Linked DNA regions of Homo sapiens: region 2 is linked to region 1. Evidence: fine-mapped expression QTL. A gene starts in region 1. The other region holds a variant in brackets. All regions are shown on one strand. Distances are from middle to middle.

Evidence for each region.
Region 2: its variant is fine-mapped to the expression of SARAF in whole blood (TOPMed, PIP above 0.99).

The regions. Positions count from the first base shown.
Region 1 is chr8:30,076,541-30,093,140 of GRCh38, forward strand. It overlaps SARAF (store-operated calcium entry associated regulatory factor), which reads right to left and starts at 6,524. Exons shown (of 6, transcript NM_016127.6): 1 at 6,307-6,524. The coding sequence starts at 6,409. RefSeq lists enhancers at 6,088-6,437, 16,431-16,600 and a silencer at 6,478-6,847.
Region 2 is chr8:30,048,852-30,064,803 of GRCh38, forward strand. SARAF (store-operated calcium entry associated regulatory factor) reads right to left here. Exons shown (of 6, transcript NM_016127.6): 6 at 14,152-15,062. The coding sequence ends at 15,037. Among named protein-coding and RNA genes, the nearest start is that of SARAF, 26 kb to the right of the region's middle. RefSeq lists an enhancer at 8,089-9,288. The variant A/G (reference allele first, on the strand shown) is at 12,892.

The DNA.
Region 1 (16,600 bases):
AAGGATTACTAAAAATATGAGGAAAGTCCCTGCTATGGTTTGAATGTGTCCCCCAAAGTTCACATGTTGGAAACTTAATCCCCAATGCAACAGTGTTGAAAGATGGAATCTTTAAGAGGGCTCTGCCCTCATGAATAGATTAATGCTGTTCTTGCAGGACTGGGTTAGTTATCGCAGGAGTGGACTCCTGATAAAAGGATGAGTTAGGCCCCTTTCCCCTCTCTCACTCTCTCCCTTCTGCCTTCCACCATGGGATGACACAGCAAGAAGGCCCTCACCAGATGCTAGCACCTTAATATTGAACTTCTCAGCCTCCAGAACTGTGAGAAATGAATTCAGTTTTTTAATAAATTTCCCAGTCTGTGGTATTGTGTTACAGTAACATTAAACAGACAAAACAGCCCCTAACATGAAATACAGCAACCAGGACAAAACAACAACAAAAGGAAGCAGGAGGAAAAAAGAGATGACGCACAAGAAGAAAACTTTTTTAAAAACACTGTAATATCCTCAGAGAGATAAGAGAAAAAGACTGCGTTAATAAAACAATCATTTTTAAAAGGGATACTCAGAGAAAAAACAAGAGCTTTTGGAAATTAAAAACAGGACAGCCAAGATTAAAAACAACAGAACTGCCAGGTGCAGTGGCTCATGCCTGTAATCCCAGCACTTTGGGAGGCCAAGGCAAGCAGATCACTTGAGCCCAAGAGTTTAAGACCAGCCTAAGCAACATGGCAAAACCCTGTCTCTACAAAAAAAATTATAACATTAGCCAGGTATGGTGGCACACACCTGCAGTCCCAGCTACTTAGAAGGCTGAGGTGGGAGAATCACCTGAGCCTGGGGAGGTCGAGGCTGCAGTGAGCCATGCACTCCAGCCTGGGTGATAGAGTGAGACCCTGTCACAAAACATAAATAAATAAATACATACATACGACAGAACTGTTAAAAGAAAATCTTCTAGAAAGTAGAGCAAAAAGAGGCCGGGCGTGGTGGCTCATGCCTGTAATCCTAGCACTTTGGGAGGCCGAGGCAGGTGGATCACGAGGTCAAGAGATCAAGACCATCCTGGCGAACACGGTGAAACCCCGGCTCTACTAAAAATACAAAAATTAGCTGGGGATGGTGGCGCGTGCCTGTAGTCCCAGCTACTCGGGGGGCTGAGGCAGGAGAATTGCTTAAACCCAGGAAGCAGAGGTTGCAGTGAGCCAAGATTGTGCCACTGCACTCCAGCCTGGCGATAGAGCAAGGCTCCATCTGAAAAAAAAAGGAAAAAGAAAAAAGAAAGTAGAGCAAAAAGATAGAAAGTAGGAGAGAAAGGCTGGGCACAGTGGCTCACGTGTGTAATCCCAGCACTTTGGGTGGCCGAGGCAGGCAGATCACAAGGTCAGGAGTTCGAGACCAGTCTGGCAAATATGGTGAAACCCCGTCTCTACTAAAAATACAAAAATTAGCCAGGCATGGTGGCGGGCACCTGTAATCCCAGCTACTCAGGAAGATGAGACAGGAGAATCGCTTGAACCCGGGAAGCAGAGGTTGCAGCGAGCCGAGATGGTGCCACTGCACTCCAGCCTGGGGGACAGAGCTAGACTCCGTCTCAAAAAAAAAAAAAAGAAAGAAAGAAAAAAGACAGTAGGAGGAAAAAAAAAAAAAAGAAAGAAAGAAAATTACCAGTTCAGGACCAGTTCAGAAAGTCCAAAAATCCAACAAGGGCTTCTGAAAGAATGAACAAGGGAATCTGATTAGACAAACTCCAGGCTGTAATTCAAGAAAAGTTCCCACACTGAAGGACTTGAGTTGTCATACTGAAAGGGCCCAACAAATACCCAGGCCTGAGAAACAGACCACACAAAGGCACACGAAAAGTAAATTTTAGAACACTGAAGACAAAAAAAGATTCTACAAATTGCCAGAAGAATAGGGAGAAAACAAGCCATATAGAAAAGATAAGACTTAGAAAAGCTTCAGGTATCTCAACAGGATAGAAAAAGAAAATGGAGAAATATATTCAAAAACTCTAAAGGAAAAAGTCTGGCTGGGTTTGCCAACCATCGCTTTGCTAATGGTGGAACAAACTGATGTTACAACATCTCCTATGATGTATTTCCCACAAGTATTTAATATGAATCTAATCAATCTAATAAACTTAAGGTCAATACCCTATCTATATAAAAAATATATATAGAGAGAGAGACCTAAATATACTTCCAACCAGGAACCCAATAGGGTTTTTTGGGGAAAGAAATTATGTTAAAGGTCCTGTGGACAATTTTTTTTTGAAAAAGAACACATAGGTTACCAGATAGTAAAGGTTACTATAAAATTATTATCATCAGCCAGGCACGGTGGCTCACGTCTGTAACCCCAGCACTTTGGGAGGCCAAGGAGGGCAGATCACCTAAGGTCAGGAGTTCGAGATCAGCCTGGACAACATGGTGAAACCCCATCTCTACTAATAATACAAAAATTAGCTGGACGTGGTGGCATACGCCCGTAGTCCCAGCTACTTGGGAGGCTGAGGCAGGAGAATCACTTGAATCCAGGAGGTGGAGGTTGCAGTGAGCTGATATTGCTACCACTGCACTCCAGCCTGGGCGACAAGAGTGAAACTCCATCTCAAAAAAAAAAAAAAAAAAAAAGATTATAATCAAAATAGTAGGGAATTGGAACAGAGACAAGGAAATTGTGAAACAAAAGAAAGATCAGAAATAAATCAAGATACATTTGGGAATTCAGTAAGATGAAGTGGTCTTTTTAATTTAGTGGATAAAAGATGTCTTCTTTAATAAATAGCACTGGCATAATTGACTATGCAGCCACAAGAAAATCCACCTAAAGCTATATAAAAATTTAATTCCACATGGGCTACAGATCTAAAATTTCCAAGAACTATATTCAAATAAACCATGCTACATTAAACACAAACTACTACCTCCTCATACATAAAAAATAAGACAATGAAAATGTTCAATGGTTTAGAAAAATCAGACTGTATTAATCAACTAAATAACAGAAATAATAAATTGAATTTATTGTAACAGAGTTGCAATAATGCAAAGAACACTGAACTAAGTTGGTGTCACTAACTGGCTGTGACTTTGGCCAAGGCATTTAATTTACCTGTGTAGAAGTTTCCTCACCTACAAAATTAAAATATTATCAACCTTGAAATTTGTTGTGAAGCTTAGATATAATTTATTATCTGGCTGAGTACTTGAAGCATAACAGGTGATCAGGTATGATAAATATTACTGAAAGTTTTAAGATGGAATAGCATTACCATAATCCTATAGCATCTTTCTTCCCTAGAGATTCTTAAGGTCCAAGAACAAAATTCTAATACCCACGCCCCACTAGTTAGATCAGTCAAGGGACACAGGAGCTCCCTGAACTCCAGACTCATAAATCAAAATCACGGCAGGTCTCAAACAAGATAAACAAAACCAAACTCCCCTAAACCTGATCATCCCACATTCTTCCACATCTCAGGAAATGGTTAACTCCATGCTTCTAGTTGCTCAAGCCAAAAACCTTGGACTTCTCATCTTCTCTCCTCTCACTCCTACATCTGATCCTTCAGAAGATCATGTTAGCTCCACCTTCCAAACAGGTGACAAGAGAATCCAGCTACTCTAACCAGCTCTCTACTGCTCCTGCCCTGGGCCAAGCGGTCACCACTCTAAGAACTTACTGTACAATATTAAAATAGATAGCAATATATATTAATTCACTGGTTTCCCTGCTTCCCTCCTACCCTCTTCGGTCTGTTTTCCACAGAGCAGCCCAAATGAGCCTTTAAAGATATAAGTAATTTCAGGTCATTTACTCCTCCTCCCCACTTCAGGTTTCCAGTCAAATGTCACCCTAACAGTGACTTCCCTGACCAATGTACGTTTTTTAAGTCTCCACTTCTGCCCGCACACCATGTCCTCCTTACGCTGTTTATCATACACGGTGCATACCAATTTTCACAATATAGCATGTTATTTACATGTTTATCTGTTTATTGTCTATTTCTCCCCAATAGAGGTAAAGTCCTTGGAGGCAAGACACTGTTTTGTTCACTGCTATATTCCCAACACCCGGAAGAGTAACTTAATATAAGATTACATTCAATAAGGAATTTTGAAAATTCATTGGTAATCTCTTTAGAATGGTGCTAATTTTTTTTTCCAGACAAATTACTGCTCAATGTGAGCTAAAGTAATGGCATCCAAGTCAAACAAAAGATAAATTAGGGAGCCGATTAATGCTTTAGTAAAGGACTTAATAAATAGTATGTCAATAAAGTATCTTCATTTAAAAAGTTCCTCAAAGTGCCGGGTGCGGTGGCTCACGCCTGTAATCCCAGCACTTTGGGAGGCCAAGGCGGGCGGATCACCTGAGGTTGGGAGTTCAAGACCAGCCTGACCAACATGGAGAAACCCTGTCTCTACTAAAAATACAAAATTTGCCGGGCATGGTGGCACATGCCTGTAATCCCAGCTACTCGGGAGGCTGAGGCAGGAAAATCGCTTGAACCCAGGAGGCAGAGGTTGCGGTGAGCCAAGATCGCGCCATTGCACTCTAGCCTGGGCGACAAGAGTGAAACTGTCTCAAAAAAACAAAACAAAACAAAAAAGTTCCTCAAAGTAAACTTTGAAGTAGAATTTACATAAAACAATTGAGTTTACTCTGCAAAATATTGTGGTGCTTTGTGTTCCAGAACAATAGTTTTACAGCGTAGATAAACCAGGAAGTGGTTCATCTTTAATTTAAATTTGGTTCTTCTTTCATAGTTTTTATAGTTCTTCTGGCTCTTCAACTGTAAACTTCCTTTATTAAATTTATTTACGAACTGATTCAAAGTTCAACAAATTAAAGTTTCATTCTAGGTTTTCACTTGTAATTCTGATCAAGTCTCCCACTCATACACAGCTTTCTAGAAATACAAAAGAAAAACGTACAGACATTTAAATACAACTTGGCTTTTTATTTTTGGTAATAAAATGTCCACATCAAATGACTACTCAACGTGATGTGCTTGCAAATAGCACCTTCTCTCTCATTTCAGCATGTAAGAATAGGCTATTATAGAAATAAACCTGTTGCTTAAATTCGACAATGCAGGCATTTCCAATCACCAAATCACAAAGGCAATATGCTTTCCATGCCATCTTTACTTCGCAAAGCAAAAATGATGTTGTTTTCATTTTTTTTTTTTTTTACAGAATTCCAAAGTAACAGCATGCGTCATTTATTACATGGAAAAAGTCAAAATCTGTATCTAAGTATATAGACATATACGTATTAATTGCACGGAATATTACTGATCCCATGAAAATTCTTTAGACAATTTTAATACTGTACTGACATAAAAGAACCTCTTTCCTAAAACCCACTTATCATGTACCATCACTAAAAAAAACCGAGAAAATTATTTTTTAAATTCTTCTCTACGGTGAAAGCCAATGGGAAGAGCTGGTGCCGCGCGATGTACATCACTGCAATCGTCAGATAAGAGGCAGCGGTTCTCATAAAGACGCGGTGGCTCACGCCTGTAATCCCAGCACTTTGGGAGGATGAAGGCGGGTGGATCACGAGGTCAGGAGGTCGAGACCAGCCTGGCCAACATAGTAAAACCCCGTCTCTACTAAAAATACAAAAAAATAGCCAGGCATGGTGGTGGGCACCCGTAATCTCAGCTACCGGTGAGGCCGAGGCAGGAGAATCTCTTGAACCCAGGAGGCGGAGGTTGCAGTGAGCCGAGATCACGTCATTGCAGTGCGGCCGGGGCGACAATGTGAGACTCCGACTCAAAAAAAAAAAAAAGAGTGCAATCTGCGATTCTGCTAACAGACCTGCGAGGTCTGCAGCCCTGTCCGCTAAGGGTGACTCAGAGACTGCCAGTGGCAGGCAACGGCCGGCGATAGCAACAGGCAGCCATGACAACAGCAGGCCACGATGACATCACACAGCCATAACAACAAAGCAGATGCGCAGGTGAGTGTCCAGCTCTCCAGTTATACTCAGAGATGAGAAAGACGACAATGGGCAAATTCCGGGAGTCCGGGGCAGGGAGAAAGGGGACCTTAAGGATCTCCAGCCGTCCCGCCCCGCCCACTCGAGCAGTCCCTACCCGCCTCCCAAGACGCCTGGGAAGAGCAGTGGAACCAGGGAGAGCACGAACAGCAAAGAGGTCAGACATGGGGAATCCGGGCACCCAGGCTCCGGGAAGACGGCGCACGGAAACGCAGGGGAGCCTGCACCGGCTGACGGCGGCGGAAAAGGGCGAACGAAGCGCCTGAGGGCCCTGGCAGCACTCACCAGGGTCGTTCCAGCCCAGGGCAGGGCCCGCGGTCAGCAGAAACAAATGCAAGCCGAGGAGCAAGCAGTACCCGGCCGCTCCCGGCCCGCAGGCTGCGGCCATGGCGCTCGATGAAGATGGCGCCGGGCTGCCAGACGCCTACGGGCCGAACCTGGGTGCGGTAGCGCGCGCGACGCTGCGCAGCTACACCGCTACCCCTGGCGGCGGCGAAGGAACGGCCCGACTGCAGAGCTGCAGCCGCAACGGATCCGTGCGCCAACCCTACGTCACTGCCGCTGCGGCCCGTGGGGCTCAGTGAGTGGCCGCCGTGGGCCCCCGCCCCTGGAGCACAGCGCGGCTTGGGGCGGGGCGAGGCGGTGTGGGCGGGGCCAAGGGCCTGGGGAGGCACGGCTGGAGGCGGGTTGGAGGCGTGGCGCCGCGGTGTGGGCGGGGCCGAGGGCCTGTCGCCGCCGCGCCCGCGGGCGGGGCGAGGGCAGCGCGCAGCTTTGTTGTGTCTCGTCTGAGATTCGGGAAGCTTCTGTGCGTAGGCGATGCAGTTTGAGAGGCTGAAAACGTCACGACGCGAAATCTAAGAAATGTAGTCAAATTATGTATTATTAAAACCTCAATAATTGTACCAAGGGTAGTTCTGTGCTTTATTCAGCTCTATGTGTTCAGCACTTAGCATAGCGCTTGGTACATGGTTAGTGTTCTATGACTGGTTGCTAAATACAGAGAAGATTCAAGCGAAAAGTAACAGGGAAATACATTGTCTGGTTTCAAGGCTCAGAACCTTTACATGGTTCCTTGCGCATGGAGGCCGGAAGACTATAAAATGTCAAGAGGAGAAAATATCGTCTGAATGAAGAACCAGCCAGAGAAAACAGTTCTCTGGGCTTTTGAGGTCTAGCAGGCTTGGGTTTCTTTCATTCATTCATTCATTCATTCATTCATTCATTCATTCAATGAATATATGTTGAATACCTAATACGCACCAGGCACTGTTTTAGGCATGGATGGTACAGACAAGATCCCTGTACTCATTGAAATAGAATAGGACAAACGACATACCAATTAAACAACAAAAATAATAGGTAATGATAGGTAATAACATTGATGAAAAACAGGGTGATATAATGGAGCCTGGGGACACAACTTCAGGGAGGGCCTTGCTGAGGAAGTGGTTTTTGAAGCTTGGGACCTGAATGATGAGAAAGAACTAGCCGTACAAAGATCAGGGGACTCATCTTCCCATCTGGGGAACAGTGGATGCAAAAGCCCTAACTTTGTGTTTCGAGGAAGAGTTATTTGGTCAGATCCTATAAAGAGTTCAGTCCCACAAGATGGCCCCAACTTCAGACATCAATCACAAGTCTCAGGTTGTGACCTATGCTTCTGACCAACCAGCTATAAATTAGGGTTTCCAGGCCGGGCGTGGTGGCTCATGCCTGTAATCCCAGCATTTTGGAAGGCCAAGGCAGGTGAATCGCCTGAGGTCAGGACTTTAAGACCAGCCTGGCCAGCATGGCAAAACCCCACCTCTACTAAAAATAGGAAAAATAGCTGGGCGTGGTGGTGCACACCTGTAATCCCAGCTATTTGGGAGGCTGAGGCAAGAGAATCGCTTGAACCTGGGAGGCGAAAGTTGCAGTGAGTCAAGACTGCCCCACTGCACCTGGACCATGGAGAGAGACTCCCTCTCAACAAATAAATTGGGGTTTTCATAACCCCCCATCTTGAGTTCCATAATTTGCTAGAATGGCTCACAGAACTCAAAAAAACACTTTATGTTTACCAGATTATTATATTGAGCACCTATTAGTACCTAACAGTACCTGCCAGGCACTGTTATCAGTATTGGGGATACAGCAGTGAATAAAACAAAATTTGGGGGACAAGAGGCAAACAAGGCCATAACTGAAGCAAAGTAAGTTAGGGGAAGAGTGGAATAAGAGATGGCAGAGCAGTGGGGCCTCGGCATGGAACCAACCAATGCTGGGACCAAGGACTGAAATAAGAGATAATAGAGAATCTATGCTCAACATGTTAAGTTTGAGGTGACTATTAGGCATCCAGGTAGACGTGTCAAATAAATAGATAAACTGTAAAAGTCTGAAGTTCAAAACTAAGGTAAATTTGGTAGTTATGTTGTAAATATAAAGATAGCATTTAATGTCATGATGCTATTGTTTGAATGTGTCCCCCAAAGCTCATGTGTTGGAAACTTATTCCCCAAAGCAATAGTGTTGAGAGGGGGGACTCTTAAGGGGTGATTAGGTTATGAGGGCAGAGCTCTTAATGCTATTATCACAGGAGTGGGTTAGTTATTGGGGAGTGGGTTCCCGATAAAAGGGATGAGTTCAGCTCCCTTTCTCTTTTGCCTACCACCGTGAAATGACACAGCAGGAAGCTCCCCACCAGATGCAGGCCCCTGGACCTAGGATTTCCCAGCCTCCAGAACCATAAGAAATAAATCTCTATACTTTATAAATTTCCCAGTCTCAGGTATTCTGTTATAGCAACACAAAATGAACTAAGACATGTGGGAAGAGACACAGTAACATGAGAGAATTGAGATACCACAAAAAAGGAGGCCCAGGCTATGGAAACACTAACATTTGAACCTCAAGCAGAAGATTCTAGAAAGAATCTGAGAAGTAACCTCTGGTGAAGAAGGAGGAAGAACTAGGACAATAGGATATGGTAATTGAGAGAAAGAAAGAATGGTCAACAGTGTCCACTGTTGCTGAAAGCTTGAAGCAAAATTTGGTCTCTGAATTTTGCAATGTAGAAATCACTAATTACCTTAACAAGAGAATGTTTGTTATTTTAGATTCCCACCATGTACCATGTACAGTTCTGGACAGTCATGAACAAAAGATGAAAGGTTGTTATAATAAACATTCTAGTGGGAGAGGTAGCCAACAAATCATGTCATTTCAAATAAATAAGTGCTTTGGGCCAGGCACGGTGGCTCACACCTGTAATCTCAGCACTCTGGGAAGCCGAGGCTCAGGATCACTTGAGACCAGGAGTTTGAGGCCAATCTGGGCAACATAGTAAGACCCCATCTCCACAAAAAATTGTTTTTAAAAAATTAGCCAGATGTGGCCAGGCACAGTGGCTCACGCCTGTAATCCCAGCACTTTGGGAGGCCGAGGTAGGCAGATCATGAAGTCAGGAGATCGAGACCATCTTGGCTAACACAGTGAAACCCCGTCTCTACTAAAAATACAAAAAATTAGCTGGGCATGGTGGCGGGTGCCTAAGTCCCAGCTACTCAGGAGGCTGAGGCAGGAGAATGGTGTGAACCCGAGAGGCGGAGCTTGCAGTGAGCCAAGATCGCACCACTGCACTCCAGCCTGGGCGAAAGAGTGAGACTCCGTCTCAAAAAAAAAAAAAAAATAGCCAGATGTGGTGGCATGTGCCTGTAGTCCCAGCCACTCAAGAGGCTGAGGTGGGAGGATCACTTGAGCCCTGGAGGTTGAGGCTGCAGCAAGCCATGACTGCATCACTGCACTCCAGCCTGGGCAACAGAGCAAGACTCTATCTCAAATAATAATAAGTACCTTGAAGAAGAAAACAGAGCAATATGACAGGTAGTGCCATAACAAGTAGGATGGCCCAGAAAAGATTCTCTGAGAAATTACCATTTGAGCTGAGAGCTAAATGATGAGGCTGTAAAAGGAAAAAACAAACTGTTTTCTCCTTTCTACTGGCACAAAACACAGAGCAGTTCTGTGACCAGAAGAGGGGCTGGGGGAGTATTTCCCTACACACCAACCAACTCTAAAGGACATCAACACGATGTCCTATAACTCAATTCAAGTTAAGGGCCCAGTCTCCCACAAGACTGCCCCAATTCAGACGTCAGTCCAGGAAAATATTTTATGTTTACCAGTTTATTGTAAAGGATTTATAAAGGATACAGATGAACAGCCAGATGAAGAGATGGATAGGGCAAAGATAAGAAGGCCATGGGGCTTCCATGCCCTCGCTGGGCACTCCACCCTCCCAGCACCTCCCTGTATTCAGCAACCTAGAAGCTCATGAAATCTTGTTGTCTAAGAGTTTGTATAGAGCTTAATCTCCAGCCACCCGCCCCCGATCTCTCCTGTTGGTTGGTGGGTGGGCTGAAATTTCCAACCCTCTAACACTCTAATCACATGGTCTTTCTGGTGACTGACTTTTTGGTGTCTGTAAACAATACAGTATAACAACTATTTACATAGTATTTACATTGTTATTAGGTATTATAAATAATTTAGAGATTATTTAAAGTATACAGGAGGGGCTGGGTGCGGTGGCTAACACCTGTAATCCCAGCACTTTTGGAGGCCCGAGGTGGGTGTATCACTTGAGCCCAGGAGTTCGAGACCAGCCTGGGCAACGTAAGAAGACCTTGTCTCTACAAAAAAAAAAAAAAAAAAAAATTAGCCAGGCATAGTGGTGCATGCCCGTGGTCCCAGCTACTCGGGAGGCTGAGGCAGGAGGATAGCTTGAGCCTGGGAGGCAGAGGTTACAATGAGCCGAAATCACACCACTGCACTCCAGCCTGGGTGACAAGAGTGAGACCCTGACCCAAAAAAAGATTTTTTTTCCTCTGAGCTTTCTCTGAATCAACCTGTAAGAGTTAGTAATTCTCAGTTTACAAAATTGTGAAGAGGATTAAATGAGATGAATGCTAAAGCACCAGGCAAATAGCACCTGCTGAAAAAGTAAGAATTCCCTTCCTCTCATCCACATTCTCATCTCCACCATTTAACTTTGGAGAATGGAAAACCATCCATATAAGAAGTATTGAAACTGAAAGGTAACACTAATTAGCTATTACATAACAATAGAGAACATTTAAAGGATATGACATTAACTAGCATTTAGGGTTCCCTTGGAAAACTGGTGGAGAAAACTGACATTCTACCTTTTTTCCGACAATGACTTTCAAGCTTTGCTTTAGTTTGCACAGGAATTGTTTGAGATTCTTGTTAACTTTTCAGATTCCGGGCTTTACCCACAAGAGTTCTAAATTCAGAAGGTCGGGAGTAGCAGTCAAGAATTTGGAAGGCATCCCAAAGTATTCTGCTTTAGGTGGTCCTTGAAATACAACATTTAGACACACTGTTTTTAAGGTCTCAAGTGACTGTGAGAGGTGACAACGTGCTAGCAGCCCTCGCTCACTCTCGGCGCCTCCTCAGCCAGGACGTCCGCTCTGGCCGCGCTGGAGGAGCCCTTCAGCCTGCCGCTGCGCTGTGGGGGTCCCTCTCTGGGGCTGGCCGAGGCCGGAGCCGGCTCCCTCCTCTCCCGGAGAAGTGTGGAGGGAGAGGCGCGGGCGGAACCCGGGGCTGCGCCCGGCGCTCACCGCTCGCGGGCCGGCGCAGGTTCCGGGTGGGCGCGGGCTCCACGGGCCCAGCACTCAGCGCAGCTGGCCGGCGCCTGCTGGGCTTGATCAGAGGCTGGGTCCCGTGCGTGCACCGCCATTCCCTCTTCGCAGGGTCGTTGGCCAGAATGGCGGGTCTCCCTCTCTTTCTCGCTTCCCCTCTTTTCCTCTTGGTTGTCTGGGACAAGCTCCTTCTGGGCTACTGGAGCACCCGGGGTAAGTGCCGCAAAATCCCGCGAAGAGCGCCAGTGAGAGGTGAAGCCGGCTAGGCTTCTGGGACCGGTGGGGACTTGGAGAGCTTTCTGTCTAGTTAAAGGGCTGTAAATGCACCAATCAGCACTCTGTGTCTAGCTAAAGGTTTGTAAACACAACAATCAGCCTCTGTGTCTAGCTAATCGGGTGGGGACTTGGAGAACTTTTGTGTCTAGCTAAAGGATTGTAAACGCACCAATCAGCACTCTGTGTAGCTAAAGGTTTGTAAATGCACCAATCAGCACTCTGTCAAAACGGACCAATCAGCTCTCTGTAAAATGGACCAATCAGCAGGATGTGGGTGGGGCCAGATAAGGGAATAAAGAAAGGCCACCAGAGCAGCAGCGGCAATCCGCTGGGGTCCCCTTCCTGGGTGTGGAAGCTTTCTTATTTTGCTTTTTGCAATAAATGCTGCTGCTGCTCACTGTTTGGATTTGTGCTGCCTTTATGAGCTGTAACACTCATAGCGAAGGTCTGCGGCTTCATTCCTGAAGCCAGCGAGACCACGAACCCACTGGGAAGAACAAACAATTCCAGACGGGAGGAACGAATAGCTTTGGACGCGCCACCTTTAAGAGCTGTAACACTCACTGCGAAGGTCTGTGGCTTCACTCCTGAAGTCAGCGAGACCACGAACCCACCAGAAGGAAGAAACTCCGGACATGTCCGAACATCAGAAGGAACAAATTCCGGACCCACCGTCTTTAAGAACTGTAACACTCACCGTGAGGGTCCACAGCTTCATTCTTGAAGTCAGTGAAACCAAGAACCCACCAATTCCGGACACAACTGGTCCCTAGACCAGTAAACCAAAAATGGTCCTTAGAGTGATGAGTGTTTTTGTGCTGGAAACACTGAATCTCATGGGAAAGATAAGGAGCACAATCTCTCAGGATTCTGTGACCATGGAAGAAAAGAATGTAGATTCCTGTAACCTGATGAGTAATCCCAGTTGCCCATGAATGTTGTCAAGGACATCTGTAATGCCAACACATTTGTACTGAAAAGAGCAAATCAGGCTGGGGGTAGTGGCTTACACCTGTGATCCCAGCCCTTTGGGAGGCCAAAGTGGGAGGATCTCTTGAGTCCCAGAGTTCAAAACTAGCCTGGACAACATGGCAAAACCCCGCCTCTACAAAAAGTAAAAAATTAGCGGGCCATGGTGGTGCATATCTGTGGTCCCAGCTACTCGGGAGGCTGAGGCAGGAGGATAGCTTGAGCCCTGGAGGTGGAGGCTGCCATGACAGGAAGCTACCATGACTGTGATTGCTCCACTGCACTGCAGCCTGGGCAACAGGATAAAACCCTGCCTCAAAAAAAAAAAAAAAGGGAAATTTATCTTTGTAGCTATCTTATCCTACATAAGATAGCTACAAAGATAAAAATAATAATAAAAATAAATGAAAAAAATAAAGCTACATACCTACCTCACAATTTGCCCACAAGGATATTCCTTGTGGACAAAGGACAGAGAGAACTCAAAGTCATCCTTTGCTCACTGTGAGACAAATGCTTATCTGATTGCTTCCTTTGCCCTGTTTTTTCACTAACCCAGACTAAAGCATAAGTGACTATACCTGTAAATTGTGTATTCAGTGAAAGGCTAATCAGAAACTCAGAAGAGGCCAGACATGGTGGCTCATGCCTATAATCCTAGCACTTTGGGAGGCCGAGGCAAGTGGATCACTTGAGCTTAGGAGTTCAAGACCAGCTTGGCCAACATGGTTAAACCCGTCTCTAACTAAAAATACGAAAATTAGCCAGGTGTGGTGGCACATGCCTGTAATCCCAGCTACTTGGGAAGCTGAAGCAGGAGAATCACTTGAATCCAGAAGACAGATGGTGCCACAGCACTCCAGCCTCAAAAAAAAGAACAAAAAAATTAGCCACGTGTGGTGGTGGGCACCTGTAATCTCAGCTATTCGGGAGGCTGAGGCAGGAGAATTGCTCGAGCCCAGAAGTTGAAGGTTGCAGTGAGCCGAGATCGCACCACTGTACTCCAGCCTGCAGCTTGGGTGACAGAGTGAGACTTGGTCTCAAAAAAAAGAAAGGAAGAAAAAGAAACTCAAAATAAGGCAACCATTTGTCTCTTATCTACCTATGACCTGGACACCCCCTCCCCACTTTGAGTTGTCCCGCCTTTGCAGACCGAACCAATGTACACCTTATATACAGTTATTGATGTCTCATGTCTCCCTAAAATGTATAACACCAAGCTGTGCCCCAACCACTTTGGACACAGGTCATCAAGACCTGCTGAGGCGTGTCAAGGGTGCGTCTTCAACCCTGGCAAAATAAACTTTCTAAATTGACTGAGACCTGTCTCACATATTGTGGGTTCACAGAACAAAACAAGAAAAGGTGTTGTGGTAGGTGACATGTGGGATGGAATTATTCACTTCTCCAGGAATTCCACCTATCCATTCAAGATGGCTGGGGAGAAGGACGTATATGCCTGCTTCAGTAGTTTAGAGAAAGGAGCTGGTGGCTCACAGATTCCGTGTAAACAGCGTGTATTTCCATGGCATATGTTCAAGTGTGCCTTGTGGTTTTGTTACCACATCCTTAAATGGAAACTTTTTTCATGATACAGGAAAGAGATGGTAGATCTTTCTGCACTAACTTGAACAGAAAAAAATTCTACTCTCCTACAAAACACCCATAGACTCATTTGGTGCATTAAGACTCAAGAAGTGACCTGTTTGTTGTTGTTGTTGTTGTTGTTTAAATTGTAATTCAACTCTAGAAATAGTAGAGAGAAGCGAAGTGGGTAATGCCTCAAGCTTCCCATTTGCTCTCATTTTAAAGCATATTGGAAATATCTCTTCTAAACATTCACTCCACAGTCTTACATGCCACTTTATGTTAGTCTGATGACTGAAAAAAAGTTAAAAATTCAAATCGTACGTAGCTCACCCCCACCTACTTCCTTTTAAAACCTTCAAAAGATTTTTATTGCTCAGAGAGAAAACCCAAAACTGCTTGTGTACGTCCCTACTATATAAGCATGCTGCCCCACCCCAACCTTGACCAACCCCATTGGCCACCTCTCTTTTCTCCAAGGGACCAAGCAAGTTCCTTGCTCCATTTGCTGCCAAAGCTCCTAACTCCCCACCACACATACATACATGCGCGCACGCAAACACACAAACACACAAAAACACAACACACAAAACACACACAAACACACATGCACAAACACACGCACACACACAAACATGCATACACACGCAAACGTGCACAAACACGCAAACACATGCAGGCACACACAAACACGCCCACAACACAGACACGCACGCACACAAACACACATGCACGCACAAACGCATACACAGACACGCACACAAACGCACGCACAGACAAACGCACACACACAACACCCAAACACGCACAAGGACGCACACACACGCACACACAAATACCCATGCACACGCAAACACGTACACAAACACATACACACAAACACGCACAAACACATGCATGCACACACACATGCAGGCACACACAAACACAAACACGCACACACACAAACACACGCAAACACACACACACAAACAACACACCCCGCCACCTGCGATGGCTTTTCCGTTCTCTATTAACACATTTATTCATCACTGTGTTGTCTCTCCTTGGGGGAAATTTTCCTTGGCAGATCGCAATCAAAAGTTTTCAGAGAACTATTTACCCATCTTTCCTAGTGTAGGAAAGGATAAAAACTTTCTTTACCCTCCTAGGTTCAGAAGCTGAGAACTGTGAATTAAACTAACAAAGTACAGATTACCAGGAAAAAAAAAAAGGTTTATTTTGCATGCACAAGGAGGCTTCACAGAAAAGAAGTGAAAACTCAAAAAGTAATTAGGCCTGGGAGCATGTATCATTTTAACAAAGGGTGATGCATTGTGGAAAAGTAGACAAAGGAAAGGTTTTGGACTTCTAGGGGCAGTAGATTTTAAGAAGGTAAATATATAGGGGAAAACTAATGAAAGATAAGGGCTATTTTAGTAATGTTTTCACAGACTCCAATAAATGCTGTTTACTGGGGCATAGGAGTTGCATCCTCTCCCTGGTCTGGGAAATGTAAATATTTATAAGTAGAAAAATTTGTTTACACATTTTTTGGGGGCCAGGCGCAGTGGCTCACACCTGTAATTTCAGCACTCTGGGAGGCCCAGGTGGGCCGATCACTTGAAGCCAGGAGTTCAAGACCAGCCTGGCCAACATGGTGAAACCCTGTCTCTACCTAAAAATACAAAAATTAGCCAGGCATTGTGGCTCATGACTGTAATCCCAGCTACTTGGGAGGCTGAGGCAGGAAAATCACTTTAACCAAGAGGCAGAGGTTGCAGTGGGCTGAGATCACACCACTGCACTCCAGCCTGGGCGATAGAGCAAGACTGAAAGTTAGCTGGGCGTAGTGGCGCGTGCCTGTAGTCTCAGCTACTTGGGAGGCTGAGGCAAGAGAATCGCTTGAACCCAGGAAGCGGAAGTTGCAGTCAGCCGAGATCATACCACTGCACTCCAGCCTGGCCACAGAGCGAGACTCCGTTTCAAAAGAAAAACAAAACAAAACAAAAAGTGGAACTTTATGTTATCTTTACAAAGGGAACTTAAGCACGGCCTTTGGGTAGAAAAGGAGAGAGCAGAGAGCTCCTCCTATGCCTGTTGCTTCTTATTTGCTTTCAGCT
Region 2 (15,952 bases), 28 kb before region 1:
CTAACTAATAATTGTGAGTTATTTAAAATATCAAGTTAGGCAGTATTGAACTAATAATAAGAATGTATACGCAATGAGGAATCTGACTCCACTTTTTGATGCTTGACTGCTGACAGCTTTTAAGCTTCCATCTGCCTCTGCAGGGACCGAAACAGCATATATTTAAAATAATTGGCCAGGCACAGTGGTTCATGCCTCTAATCCCAGCACTTTAGGAGGCCGAGGCAAGAGGATCTCTTGAGGCCAGGAGTTTGAGACCAGCCTGGGCAACATAGTGGGACCCATCTCTACCAAAAATGAAAAAAATATTAGCTGGGTGTGGTAGCACACACCTGTAGTCCCAACTACTCTGGAGGCTGAGGTGGAAGGATCGCTTGAGCCCAAAAGTTCAGGGCTACAGCAAGCTATGAACCCACCACTGCACTCCAGCCTGGGTGACAGAACAAGACCAATTTAATTAATTGATTATTAATGTAATTAATTACTTATTAATTAATTAGCTAATTGATTTAATTTAATTAATTACTTATTAATTAGGAGGTTGAGGTGGGCGAATCACTTGAGGTCAGGAGCTCGAGACCAGCCTGGCCAACATGGTGAAACTCTGTCTCTACTAAAAATACAAAATTTAGCCGGACATCGTGGCCATGGATGTGGGGGACGACACTGCCATTCCAACACCAGCTTCCAGAAATCATCAAGTGAAAGGTAATAATAAGTAATAAGTAATTAATTAAATAAGAAAAGAAAATAATTGACTTACCATTATGTTTACCATCATGCTTATGCATCCAACAATAAAGACAGTACAGTAAACAATATTCCCAATCTGCTTGTTGTCATGATGCTTTAATAGGTCCCGGATTCAAAAGACTTCATTCTCCCAGTAAGACATCCTACTTGCAAAGACTTTCCTAAATATCATGGTTTGGGTTTTTGTTTTTGTTTTTGTTTTTGTTTTTTTTATTGAAATAGAGTCTCACTCTGTTGCCCAAGCTGGAGTGCAGTGGCGTGATCTTGGCTCATTGCAACATCTGCCTTCCAGGTTCAAGCAATTCTCCTGCCTCAGCCTCCTGAGTAGCTGGGATTACAGGCGCCCACCATCACGTCCGGCTAATTTTTGTATTTTTAGTAGAGACAGGGTTTCACCATGTTGGCCAGGCTGGTCTCGAACTCCTGACCTTAAATGATCCGCCCACCTCAACCTCCCAAAGTGCTGGGATTACGGTTGTGAGCCACCATGCCCAGCCTAAATATCATGGTTTTGAATAAGCACAGTGTCAATTTCTCTAATTTGTGTCATCATTCCACATATAGGGTGGGCTGTTGTATAAGGTGAAGAAAATTGATGTATGATCCATTGGTTACTCATTCATTCAATATGTGTTGAATACCTAGTATGAGACAGGCACTGTTGCGAACAATATGGACATAGTATAGAACAAGATAGACAAAAATCCCTGTCCTTGTGGAATTTATATTCTAGAAAGAGGGGGTAGGAAAAGTAATAATAAAGTAAATTATATAGTAAGTCAGAAGATAAGGGTTATAGGAGAAAATAGAACAGAATAAGGGAAATCCAAAGTCCTAGGGCAGAAATGGGGAAGTGAAATTATCATTAGAGTGGTTTGGTTTCCTTACTGCTGTTCACCAAATACATATGGTTTTTGATCTCCAGGCTTATACTAGGATTGTACTTCCCTATCATATTAAAGTTAAGTACAGCCATAGGACTTGTTTTGGCCAATGGAATGTGAGCAGAAATGATGTGTGTGATTTCTGGACAGAAGCTTTAAGTATAGTGTGTGATTCTCCACATGCCTCTCCCACTGCTGCATGCCATAGGAAGCTTCACTTGGCCAGAATTCCTGAATAACATCATGAGCCAAAGCCCCTGCCAACCTGTGTTAGACACTTGGTGTGAGCTACATATTAAGCTAATGAGATTTTTGGTCTTGTTTGTTACTGCAGCATAACCCGACCTATCCTAACTGATGCAAGTTGTCAGGGTAGACCCCACTAAGACAGCAAATGATAGTGGCTTGAACCTGAGTGACAATAGCAGAAGAGATGAGAAGTCATCAGAATCTGGAAATATTTTGCTGTATGGAAAAGAGTTAAGTCCTATATGATTGAAAATGTGAGACCAGTTACAGCAGACTACATTGATTCTAATAGTATGTCAGAGACATTTTGTGTAAAAAGGGGAAATATACTTGTGTAAAAAGGGGAAGGGTTCTAGGGGCAATCTTTTATGGTCTGGTGACAATCTGGAAGGAAATAAATAATCTATCTAGCAGGTTTACAACAGCATAAGCAACCTACTAAATATTAGGAGATTTTACTGTCCGCAATGAGATTTCTGACTTGTATAGTGGAGCATTATTGCCCTCTAGTGATAAAAGAGAAAATGTACTTAGAGAAAAGGAAAGTGACAACCAATGATTCTGGGAAACACTCAATTCGAAATTTGGGGTATTCTTTGGGCCATGACTGGTTGCTTTCTAACAACTTTTGACTGGGAGACACCATGAGCAATTGTATATCTGAGAAGATAAAATCTGGCATTGCTTTTCAAAGTTATCCATAATTTTCAAAAAAGTGAGAATCCTGAATCCGTGTTGGTTAAGGTGCCAGGATTATTGTAAGTATAAGAATTAGTAGTGATATCTACTACACAAATATTTTATTGTCTTCCATAAAAGATAGGGACAAGTAAGGGGATGAAGATTAATGTGTGTAACTGATAATTCCTGAACTTGGTGTTCTTTGTTTTGCTTTGTTTTTTTAACCAGTTGCACAAATGAGGAACGGTGAGAGACTTCCTGTTAGTAATTCAGTGAAATAGTAGTTAGTGAAATAGAGTGGCATTTTTTTTGTCACTTTCATAAGCTCAATATGAAGTAGTAGAGAGATGTAGCTTCCCAAAAGGCTGCAATCATGAAATGTTTATCCAAAAGAAAGTAATATATCCATTGAACTTCATATAATTATGCTGGAACAACCAGTATAATTTATTTAATCAAGATACAAATATTGTTGCATCTCTTATTTTACTTAACTAAACCAAGCAGAATCCCAATACTTTGGATAAGTTGGAGGTATAATTTCTTTCAAGGGACTTCTCTTCTTCTGCCCACTTATTCAAGAATCCCAGGATGTTGTCCAGAATGGATGAACATATTTCTGAAATGCCTTCTGGAGAGCAATCCAGAGGATCCAATCCATCACCAGCAGACCTAACTTTCAGCTACCATTGTTGTTGCCACATTATGAATACTGGTCTTTCCCAGTCTGGTATATTCTTTTCCACTGTTCTTTTCCATCCATATTCCTATGCAGGTCACAGTGGTGTCCTCCTCCCTCACTTCCCAGGTAATAGCTCTCCAGGTTAAAACCACATATGCAGACATTCTTCCCAACACACTCATTGTGCCCTTGTGGATCCAGGACAATTCCAGTTCCAGACATAGCCACAAGCTAACCCAGAACCCACTTTTTCCCAAGACTATGTAGAATCGGGTAATAACCCAGAATTCCCGGTCTTCACTCATCCTTCTCTCCCCTAAGAGCTGCCTCTAACCATCCAAAAGGTACTATTTATGAGGAAGTCCAAAAGAGATGTGTGAGAGATACTGCATACTCTTCCAGTAGCCACCTGGGTTTCCATGAAAATGTACTTCTGCTTAAGCAAACTTTCATCTCTGCATATTTTAAAAAGCAGCCTTCATCAAGCCCTTTTTAAAAGGCTTTGTTGTACATTTCCCCAAGAGCAATAGATGTCTGCTTACCCTATCTTTACTTATGAACCACAAAGAACAAAGAAGATCCGCTTTGGAATGACTCACTTTATCCTCCCATGCAGGAAGATCAAAGGCCAAGTTTAAATGGCAGCTTCTCTGACATCCATATCTTAATTACAGTCTGGGTGCCACATTTAAGCATAAATCTTATTCTAGAAATATATCTTATAAATCTAAACACATGTACATTAAAGATCTAAACTATAATAAAGTCTCTGACTCCAGTGTTTGGAGCAGCTACAACATAAACTCATGTACAAAAGATATGTTCGGATGTTCATTATTGCATTGTTGAAAATAGGGAACAAAATTGAAAATGTGGTAAATGTATATTGATATTGATAAAGGAATGGTGAGATTAAATTATAATATATCCATATGATGGAATACTATGCAGCTGTGAAAAGAATAGATTTATTCTTTGTGAAAAAATTCTGGACATTGTGTATAATTTCTATAATAATAACCAAAAAATGTTAACAGAAATTATTTCTAGGTAGAGAGACCACACTGAGAGGATGAAACGAAGGGGGCCGTGGGGAGTTGGGCAGATATAGACTTTTTTCTTTTTGGAGACAGGGTCTTGCTCTGTCGTGACTGACACGGTCATAGCTCATTGCAGCCTCAGACTCCTGGGCTCAAGTGATCCTCCTACCTCAGCCCCCTGAGTAGCTGAGATTACAGGCATGTGCCACCATGCCTAGCCAGATACAGACTCTTTCTTTTCTCTTTATATCCTTCTAAACTGTTCGAATGTTTTACAAAGAACTTGCATTGCTTTTCTTTTTTCAATTATGAAATATGCATATTTTAACTTATATATAGTTGTGAATGATTTATCTATATAATTTAATTAAATATAATTTAACTTGATAAATACTCATAATTTTGAATATTTTAATGTAAGGAAGAAATGTGTCTTTTCTCCTTTAATAAGGAAAGATTGTGCTGGGGATTTAAAAAACAAAAAACAACAACAACAAAAAAAAACATGATCAAACCTAGGTAGATGACCAGATGGTGGAGGATCCAAAAGCTAGGTAAAGTAAGAAATGATTGAGAGTGTTTTGGATTTTTAACTTGAATAAAAAATAGAGCTGTCTTCAAATATCTACAGTAAGGGAATTCCACTTTTATGTTTGTGAGGGCAAGATGATTTGAACCAATCCTATCACACACGGAAACTAACAAAACTGAGCAAAATATGAAAAGACATCTTCCCGAAGGCATCACAGAGCTAGCAAAATCATGAAGATTTACTATTTCTGGATCCAGGGAAGACAGGAACTCCTATAAATTATGTGGGCATTATTCCCATCCTGCCCTTCATCCACTAGAAAATGATTTACTTAGAAACAATGTGAAACATTGTGATACACAATAAGGCATTCTGTAAATCTACATATCATGGTTTCAACAACAGCCTTTCGAGTGGGAAGGGCCAATCCAAACCCAGAGTAAATGTCTACTTCAGTGACAACAAATCATTGCCCCTTTCATGATAGAAGTGGTCTCATGTAATCAACATGCCACCAGATGGTGGGCTGATTTCCCCAGGGAATTGAACCGTATTCAGGGTTCAGTGTTGGCCTCTGCCGTTGGGAGATAGGGCACTCAGCAGCGGTTGTAACCTGATCGGTTTTGGTGAATGGAAGACCCTTTTGCTGAATCGATGGATAACTTTCATCCCTACCACCTTAGCCACTTTGTTTATGAGCCAATGAAACAGGAGTAGGGCTTGCTGAAAAAAAGAGGCTGAATAATAGCCACAGAAAATGTCATCTTATGAAGTGACTTAAGATGCAACGTTCTGTCGGGGACATGAACTACTTACTGATCCTAATACTCTGAGTGGATGGTTTCCTGAGGGATGATGGCTTCCTGCTTGGATGTGATGATGCCTATAGTAAGCAAGGTGGAGATGCCAGAATTTCTGTGATATTCTACTACTCAGGTAGTTGTAAGCATGTATATTGGACAAAAAAAAAAAATCTCATCTTTGTTAAGAGAGGACCATACATCTACATTTCCCCCAGATATCCTTATCAATTTTTCTTTCTTTTTTTTTTTTTTTTTGGAGACAGAGTCTCGTTCTGTCACCCAGGCTGGAGTGCAGTGGCACGATCTCATCTCACTGCAACCTCTGCCTCCTGGGTTCAAGTGATTCTTCTGCCTCAGCCTCTCGAGTAGCTGGGACTACAGGTGTGTGCCACCACGCCTGGCTAATTTTTTGTATTTTTAATAGAGACAGGGTTTCACTGTGTTAGCCAGGACGGTCTCGATCTCCTGACTTTGTGATTTGCCTGCCTCAGCCTCCCAAAGTGCTGGGATTACAGGCGTGAGCCACTGCGCCCAGCCTAATTTTTGTATTTTTAGTAGAGATGGGGTTTTACCATGTTGGCCAGGCTAGTCTCTAATGCCTGACCTCAGATGATTCGCCCACCTCGGCCTCCCAAAGTGCTGGGATTACAGGCATGAGCCAGCTTGCCCAGCTTTATCGTCAATTTTTCAGTCTCATTTTTCCAAGCCCCTGGTCACCCATTCAAACCAGAAACCACTGTCTATTTTGAAAAGTGTAGATACATATGTCTTGCCATCTCTTATTTCAGATGCATAGCTCAAAATTCCACCCCCTCAGGGCACTTCCCTTCACTGTCCTTCCAGGTGGTATCAGCATATCATGCAGATCCATTTGTAAATCAGGCTACTCTTGACTTGCTGTCCTGTATGGAATTCCATCCACCTTGGTTGGCTCTGACAATGAAGAGATGCAATTTGCCACTTCGGAAACCCACTATCTCTGTTAATCTTGGGAAGTCCATTTTCATGACAGCATTTCCCACTATTAACCTTTGCCTACAGAGGACAACTATCATTGAGCCCTTAAAAATGCTAATAACTCTCTCACCAGTACCTTCCTTACTACCTTGGTAAAGGGAGATGCTCTGAACCCTCAGAGTAGAGTCAAATGTTGGATTATTCAGTCTCATAAGTAAATTCTAACATCCCACTTCCTTGAGTCTTCAGATACTGTGCTCAATACTATACCATAGAAAGTCTGGCATCTCTACCTCACTTACGGTAGGCATCATCACATCCAATCAGGAAACCATCATCATCCATCAAGAAACCATCCCAGAAAATTATTAGAACCAGTAGCTCATGTCTTTGACAGAACATTGAATCCCAATTCACAGGTGAACATAAAGGACTTCTCTTTCCACCATATTTCACCCCTCCCACAGCCCAACTTCCAGATGAATTTCCACATGGTTTATCCCTACTCTCGCTGGTACATATTAGCTGTATGGTACCATGATTTTTTTAGTATGTGACCTATTTCCTCCCAAGGCAAGTGCTATAATTCCAAGAGGTTATCATTCTTTTGCTGTGTGGCTTATTTCCTCCCAAAGCAGGGACTGTCTTTCCCTGTTAAGGTTGAGATCTGACTCTAGTTATTGGCCTGGAGGCAGAGATGTGGCAGGACTCAGTTTTAAGAAAAAATGCTATCTTACAAGGCATCTGCTTCAGGTGAGGCCGTTACATGGTCTCTAGACAAGGAAGGCTAATCCCCTTCAGCAAGAAGGAAGGGGCTGCTATGCCAGAAAGAAAGACTTAGGAAGATGTCGATGTTCAAGTTCTTCTGATTCCTTGAACAGTCCAATTCCAAAATTCCATCCTGTACAACTTTCACACCAATTGTCTTAACACAAGTCCTCTAGAAAGCAGAACTCAAGCAAAAAAAAAGAAAAACATTTCTGGCACTTGGACAGAAGCATGTCCAAAGACACAGGGTGAGGGAAAAAAGTGAGACAAATAAAGATGTGATGCAATGGCATGCAATGGATTGCGGCACTGCTTCACAATGAGCTACAGACACACAGTAGGTCGCTTTGCAGGCAGGTTCACTCTGCACAAAGGACTTCTCCAGAAGAGTTGCAAAAAGAAAACACATCTTGCAGTAATCCCTGAAAAGATAGGAATTTATTTCCCATTGGTCATTGCTCATTCCATTGAGCTAATTCCCTAAACAACTGAGTTGCACCATCTGGGCTCCCGGCAGCCACACAGGAAACCATATTCCACACCTTGCAATGTGTCGTCTTATTCAAATCTCAAAGTGGAGGGGTGACCTGGTGTGGGTGTGACACCAACCACGTGAAAGGAGAAGGCAGTTAAGAGCCTCTGAGAAGGTGTACAAGTGGTGCTGATATAGTGGATTTGGAAGTTCCAGTGCACAAGGAAGGAATGCTTCCACCAGGAAACACTGTCACGATGAATTGGAAACCTGAGACTGTCCTTGGACAGTTTGGGCTCCTCATGCTACTGAACAAATGGACAAAGTAAGGGGCCACTCTAACAGGTAATTCATCCTAATTATCAAGGGAAAATTAGGTTGCTGGCCAGGCGCGGTGGCTCATGCCTGTAATCCCAGCACTTTGGGAGGCCAAGACGGGCGGATCACTTGAATTCAGGCGTTCATGACCAGCCTGGCCAACATGGTGAAACCCCGTCTCTACTAAAAATACAAAAATTAGCCAGGCATGGTGATGGGCACCTGTAATCCTAGCTACCCTGGAGACTGAGGCAGGTGAATCACTTGAACCCAGGAGGCAGAGTTTGCAGTGAGCCAAGATCACACCACTGCACTAAAGCCTGGGCAACAGAGCAAGACTATTCTGAAAAAAGAAAAAAAAATGAATATTAAAATGACTCTTGAGCTTGCCCAATAACCTGGACCTATCACAGAGCCTTCTTTTGTTCTAGGCTCCTGTTAAAACTAGCAGCTTTGCGATCAGTCAGTAAATGGACTAGAGTTGCATACCACATAAGGAATATGTTGCCCGCAAGATCCACTAGGTATTGCATCATTTTTTTCATCTGGAGCCAGATGTAACGATTTATCCTTGGCCTTAGAAAGATATTTCAACATGTCCCATACTACTGGACTCCTAGAAATTTCCCTGAGGTAGAAAGCCCCTGAATCTTTGTCAGATTTGTTTCCCACCCTCTAACATACAAATGCCTTACCAATACATCTACAGTAGTTGCTACTTCTTGGTAGTTGCTCTTCTTGCTCATCAGATCCAATCAGCTTAATATAATAAATGTCATGGACCAGTGTGAAGTCTTGTGGAAGGGAAAGGTAACCAAGGTCCTTGCAGACTAAATTATGACATAGGACTGAAAAGTGAAGGTGTATTGCTGGCCCTGCCAGCTGAAAGCAAGCTGCTTCTGATGGTGTGTACTAACAGGTATGGAGGAAAAGCATTTGCCAGAGCACTTGTGTTTCAACTACCAGATATGTTCATGTACCCAAGTGATGAAACTACATCTGGAACAGCAGTTGCAATTGAAGTCACCATCTGGGTAAGTTTATGACAACCTATTATTACTCTCTATCCGTTTTCGGCACAGGCCAAATAGGCGAGTTGAATGGGGATGTGGTAGGAAGCACCAGCCCTATATCCTTCAAGTCCTTGATGGTGGCATTAATCTCTGTAATCCCTCCAGAAAGGCAGAACTTACTATCTCACGGTTCTAGAGGCTGTGAGTCTGATATCCAGGTGGTAGCAGGGCCATGCTCCCTCTGTATGTGCTGAGGAAGGATCTGTTCCAGGCCTGACTCTCAGCTTCTGGTGGTTTGCTGGTAATCTTTGGCATATATTGGCTTTTGGCAGAACTCCAGACATTACATGATTATTTCTGTTTGTGTGTCTGTGTCCAAATTTCCTCATTTTATAATGACATGAATCATTGGTGTTCACTCTACTCCAGTATAACCTCATCGTAATTTCATCTGCAGTAACCCTGTTATGGTTTGGATGTTTGTCCCCTCCAAATCCCACATTGAATGTGATTCCCAATGTTGCAGGTGGGGCCTGGTGGGAGGTGTTGGGAGCATACAGGAGGATTCCCTCATGAATGGTTTAGCACCATCCCCCTCGTGATGAATGAGTTCTTGCTCAGTTAGTTCACACAATATCTGGTTGTTTAAAAGTCTGGGACCTGGCCAGGTGCGGTAGCTCACACCTGTAATCCCAGCACTTTGGGAGGCCAAGGCAGGAGGGTCACTTGAGGCCAGGAGTTCAGCCAACATGGTAAAACCCTGCCTCTATTAAAAAAAAATACAAAAATTAGCCACGTGTGGTGGCACACACCTGTAATCCCAGGTACTCAGGAGGCTGATGCAGGAGAATCACTTGAACCCACGATGCAGAGGTGAGGTGAGGCAGTGAGCCAAGATCACACCACTGCAGTCCAGCCTGGGTGACAGAGCAAGACTCTGTCTCAAAAAAAATCAGTCAATCAATCTGGGACCTCCCTCCCTCGCTCTCTCTTGCTCCCACTCTCACCATGTGACGCACCTGTTCCCTGCACCTTCCACCATGATGGGAAGCTTCCCAAGGCATCACCAGGAGCAGATGCCGGCACCATGCTTCCTGTACAGCCTGCACAACTGTGAGCCAATTAAACCTCTTTATAAATTACTTGGTCTCCGGTATTCCTTTATAGCAACACAAATGGACTAACATAGACTCTATTTCCAAATAAGATCACATTCTGAGGCACAGAGCTCAGGCACTTTCTGTGTCCCTCCATTTCACCCCATTTCCTCACTCCAACTCTCCCTAGTCGCCTTCATCTCTAACTTGGATGTTCTTCCAATTGGGATTCCCCACAAGTCCTCTCAGCCCCTTTAATCAAGTGTCCATATCACAGCCACTATTGGTTTATCATTTTTGTAGATAGAGGTAGTTCTAGTGACTTTCACTTGGCCTATGCCACCATAACAGCCTTCATTCCACAGGTCAGGGACCCAACGTAGAGATTCTGCTAGTTGCTGAGTATGTCTATTCTAATCCTGCATTCTAGAACGCAGGTTCCATTCCTGTGTAATAATCACAGGATCATTCGAGGGACCCATGGGACTCACTGTGAAATTGATCTGAGCTAAAACTCTATAAGCTCTTACTCTGACTGGTGGACCACAGTAATGTTTTGAGCCTCCTGGAATTAGCATCAATTCAGTGTCCAGTAATCCCTAAACTATCTGATTATTTTCCCTTTCCCCAGGGCATAGTTACCCCAGTAAATAGCCACGGGTCCATTGAGGGAAGACTGGGGGAAAGATAAACAATATAAACCTGGCAATGTGGTAGGGTTCTTCCTCAAGGGGAACCCAGCCTCTCCTTCATTGAAGGGATTCTGGAGCTATAAACCAGCTCAAGTCTAGGAAATGATTCAGAGGCTATGACTCACTTGTGGTGACTTAAGATAGACTTCTGTTGGCTGGGCACAGTGGCTCACACCTATAATCCCAGCACTTTGGGAGGCCGAGGCGGGCGGATCACCTGAGGTCAGGAGTTTGAGACCAGCCTGGCCAACTTGGTGAAACCCTGTCTCTACTAAAAATACAAAAATTAGCCAGGCATGGTGGCAGGCGCCTGTAATCCCAGCTACTCGGGAGGGTGAGGCAGGAGAATTGCTTGAACCTGGGAGGCAGAGGTTGCAGTGAGCCGAGATCATGCCCCTGCTCTCTCCAGCCTGGGTGACAGAGTGAGACTTGGTCTCAAAAAAAAAAAAAAAAAAAAAAAAAAGACTTCCGTTTACTCAGCCTAGAACTCTTCCACATACATAAATCAAATAAGAATTTAGTAGACTGCCATCTATTTCTTCCATAGGTACACAATGATCAACCAGCCAATGCCATAGGTCTCTGAGTCAGACAATTCTTGTTAATTTTTGTTTCATAAAATTTTTTGTAGAGATAGAGTCTCACTATATTGCCCAGGCTGGTCTCAAACTCCTGGCCTCAAGCAATCCTCCTGCCTCTGCCTCCCAAAGTTCTGGGATTACAGTCATGTGCCAGTGTTCCTGGCCTGAGTCCAACAATTCTGATGGCTGCTTTGACTCTGCTGCCCATTACAGCATAACCATGCCACGCTATCTTTGCTGATTGTCACCATTTGGCCCCTGCTACCCTGGGATCAAATTAACCCCACTGCCTCTAGGGGTCCCAGTTTGATGGTAGCAGTTCCCACTGTACATTCTGACCTACAAAGAAGAGAAACCAAATTTGTGGGCCTCCTTCTCAAAAATCTATTTCTCACCATCATGGTGAAAAGTGTATTCTCTTGACTCCTCCAGGGTGGGTGGGTGGGGCTTATATGATAAATCCACCCTAACATTCCAATCTCCCTGAGCCTTTGAATCCCTTCCTCCACAGTACACTGAGGCAGTTCTGGCATTTTGACTTTAGTGTAGGCCATCTTCGAGTCCATGTTCAGCAAACCAACTAAACTGTTAAGAGTCCTTTCTAACCTCTCAAATATTGAATCCAGAATCTCTGCTGAGTGGGCCAATATCAATAAAGTTGTCCTGACTGAACTTTACAGTCCTACCACCATATCCTACACTCTAAGATCCATTCCCACACATATTCCCCAGATTTCTATCTGTATAGACTGGGAAAATCATGGAGTCCTTTTGGTGTGCAGGGTACCTCCTCATGGATCATAATTTGTACCTCACTCTTTGGTGCCTACTGGAACGTGAGTCTAGCTGTACATCTAGGAGCAAAGCAGGTAGCAAGGGCAGACCCTGAGGCAGATGAGTGATGCCTGGTAACGAACACCTCTGAAGAGACCATTACAGATCCTTCAGGCAAAGTAGGATTAACCTTCTCAGACAGAAGTAGAAGGGCTGCTTCTACCGGCAAGAAATACTACGCAGAATTTAGGGGTTCCATTTCACTGGCTTCATCAGGATCCTTTCTTATGTCCCCATTCCACTTTTCAGGATCCCACTGCTTCTCAATCAATGCTCTCACCTTATTTTTTTAAGAGACAAGGTCTCACCCTGTTGCCCAGGCTGGAATGCAATGGCAAAATCACAGCTCACTGCAGCCTTAATCTCCCGAGCTCAAGTGATCCTCCCACCTTAGCCTCTGGAGTAGCCAGGACTACAGGTGCATACCACCATGCCCAGCTAATTAAAATAATAATCTGTAGAGATGAAATCTTGCTATGTTGCCCAGGCTTGTCTCGAACTCCTGGACTTAAGCAATCCTCCTGCCTTAGACTGT[A/G]CTATCTTATTATTCTAAGTTTTACATTTGGGGAAGTGATACATGTGAACCTTTTCCATAGACAACAAAGGGCCGGGAGTAGTGGTTCATGCCTGTAATCCCAGCACTTGGGGAGGCCATGGTGGGAGGACTGTTTGAGGCCAGGAGTTCGAAACTAGCCTGAGCAACATAGTGAAACACCATCTCTACCAAAAAAAAAAAAAAAAAAAAAAAGTTCTTAAATGACAAGGAAGTACAAATACACAACAGATAAAAGAGGAACACTCAGGTGGGGCTTGAAACCTATACTCTGCCTCTTTTCCTCCCTTCCCTCCAGGGACCCTCTAAAGAACCTCATAAGAACACCACTAGGGCTCCCCAGAGTAATCTAAAAGCCACCAAGTCAACTCTTTTTTTTTAAAGCTATCGCCTACAGGAAGAACAGTCAACTCTCTTTACATTAACTCATTATTTTCTTACAATCCCAATGATCTGCAGTACTATGTTCAAAAACAATCTGAGTAAGCCGGGCGCGGTGGCTCACGTGTGTAATCCCAGCACTTTGGGAGGCTGAGGCAGGTGGAACACCTGAGGTCAGGAGTTCGAGACCAGCCTGGCCAACACAGTGAAACCCCATCTCTACTAAAAATACAAAAACTTAGCTGGGCTTGGTGACAGGAGCCTGTAATCCCAACTACTCAGGAGGCTGAGGCAGGAGAATTGCTTGAACCCAGGAGGAGGAGGTTGCAGTGAGCCGAGATCATGCCACTGCACTCCAGCCTGGTGACAGAACGAGAGACTCTGTCTCAAAAAAAAAAAAAAAGCAACAAACTACATTCTCTTTTATTCCATATCCTTCTACTAAGGAGAAATGGGGTAAGGATTTAGTGGGATATACATAAAGTAAAGCTGTGTTTCTTCTATCAGTTAAAATTTCTACTGTTTTACTGATGAAAAGAGGATAGTTTTATTATGCAATAGTCTTAATAAGGGTTTGTTTTAAATTGGTTCTTATTGGTTGGTGAAAAGTAACTGCAGTTTTAAATGGCAAAAATCATTAAACACATAAGATATAAAACTGGGGCTTTGAGGTTATGAAGCTTAACTAAGTGTAACCATGCAATCTCTGATGGGTTGGGAGGCTTGGAGATTTAATTATTTTTTTCAAACGCTATTTTTTGGCAGAGGCTTCCACACCATTTGTAAATTACTTTTTGAAAACATTTACCAAAAGACTAAGGTACGACTACCACATAAAATTACTGTTTAGGGAGACAGAACTTCTGCATGAACTTTCCCCTTTGGGAAAAAGGGTTTAAAAAAACAAAAAGTAACATTTATTTGCGCCTAGGCTAATAGAAAGAATGAGACTAAACCCCTTGTTTGTTTTTATTGATTCTTTTTAAGATTGAAACAGACTATTACAACAATATTTGAGATTTCACAGAGAACTGCATGCTTTTGTTATTAAAAGACTTTTGTTGAAAAATTTGACCTTTACCTCTTATGAACGAAAGAAATATAGAGGTTTCAAGCATTTTTGCCAGCACAGAGTCATTCACAACAACCTTCTAGATGCTTATTTTCTACCTTTTCCTACAGAAGGTAATATTCAGTTACCAGAAGGCCATCTCCACCACTGAATGATTCAAAGCTTCAGAGCTCAAAAGTGATCAGAACTCACAAATTAGCATAATTAGTCCAAAGCTTGATTTAAATGTTTGAAGAACAGCAAACATCAAATAATATAATACCAAATAGAATATTATAGTCTCTATGAGGTAATAACTCATCAGCTACAACCACCTAAAACTGAAATTTTCTGTACTTAGTTTCTATTAGTACAACACCTTCATTCTTAATGCTTCTTAGGGCATCACAGGTTTTAGAAATTAATGTATTTTTAGCATTCCACAGTAATGATCACTTTCAAAAACTGCAATATACATCTGCATGTTACACTGACATACAACACATAAGTATTTTGTCACACATCAACTTTTAGCCTCAAATAATAGAATACAAAAAGCTACACTGGACATAACACCACAGAACTTTTGAATATCCCCTTTTCCCAATTGTTAACAGGTAGTACTTTTTTTCTAAAGAGAAAGTGATGAAAAATCCAAAATTTCTGCATCCAGTGTTTGACTCCAACTTTCTACTTTATCGTCTCCTGGTACCACCATATCCTAGAATGAGAGGGGTAAAATTTACATTAGTTTTTAAAAATGCATTAGAATTGCTTATAAAATTACAAGTCATACATGTTTATTGTCAGCAAATGAATGAGATAGGAGGAAAGGAAAGAGTGTGCCACTAGGTGGAACTGGGCTAAGCAGGACAGTGCATCGCCTCCCACAGCAACCTTCCCAATCATCAAGCCTACTACACTCACACATGGTTGCTGGGAATGACAGTTAGGACCCCAAAAAAGAGAATGCATTCTATAGTGGGGCCACCATGGTACAGGCAATACTCAAAGTCTAAGCCAAAAAGACAGAGGCCAGTGGCGCATAAGCCATGCCCTGCTACCTCTCACAACTCCAGTGGTAAGAGACGTAATGTGGGGAGGGTTACGGACTTTAGATGCTTAAACGTTACTTAAGACACTGTGCGCACACACACAGGCTACAGGATGACAAATCTTCCTATCTAGAAAGTCTCTCAATTATTTTCAGGTTTACATTATTTGGTTTTTATGATTTTCTTTCATATAATTCCCATACATTTCTAGTTCATAGTCATGATTTTATGCAAGTCTTCTTTCCACTGAGAATGAATATTTTTCTGTCATGATGTCTTACCTAGCCATATATATATATATATATATATATATATTTTTTTTTTTTTTTTTTGAGACAGAGTTTTGCTCTTGTTGCCCAGGCTGGAGTGCAATGGTGCAATCTCGGCTCACTGCAACTTCTGCCTCCCGCGTTCAAGCGATTCTCCTGCCTCACCCTCCCAAATAGCTGGGATTACAGGCATGTGCCACTACACCCAGCTAATTTTTGTATTTTTAGCAGACATGGGGTTTCACCATGTTGGGCAGGCTAGTCTCGAACTCCTGACCTCAGGTGAT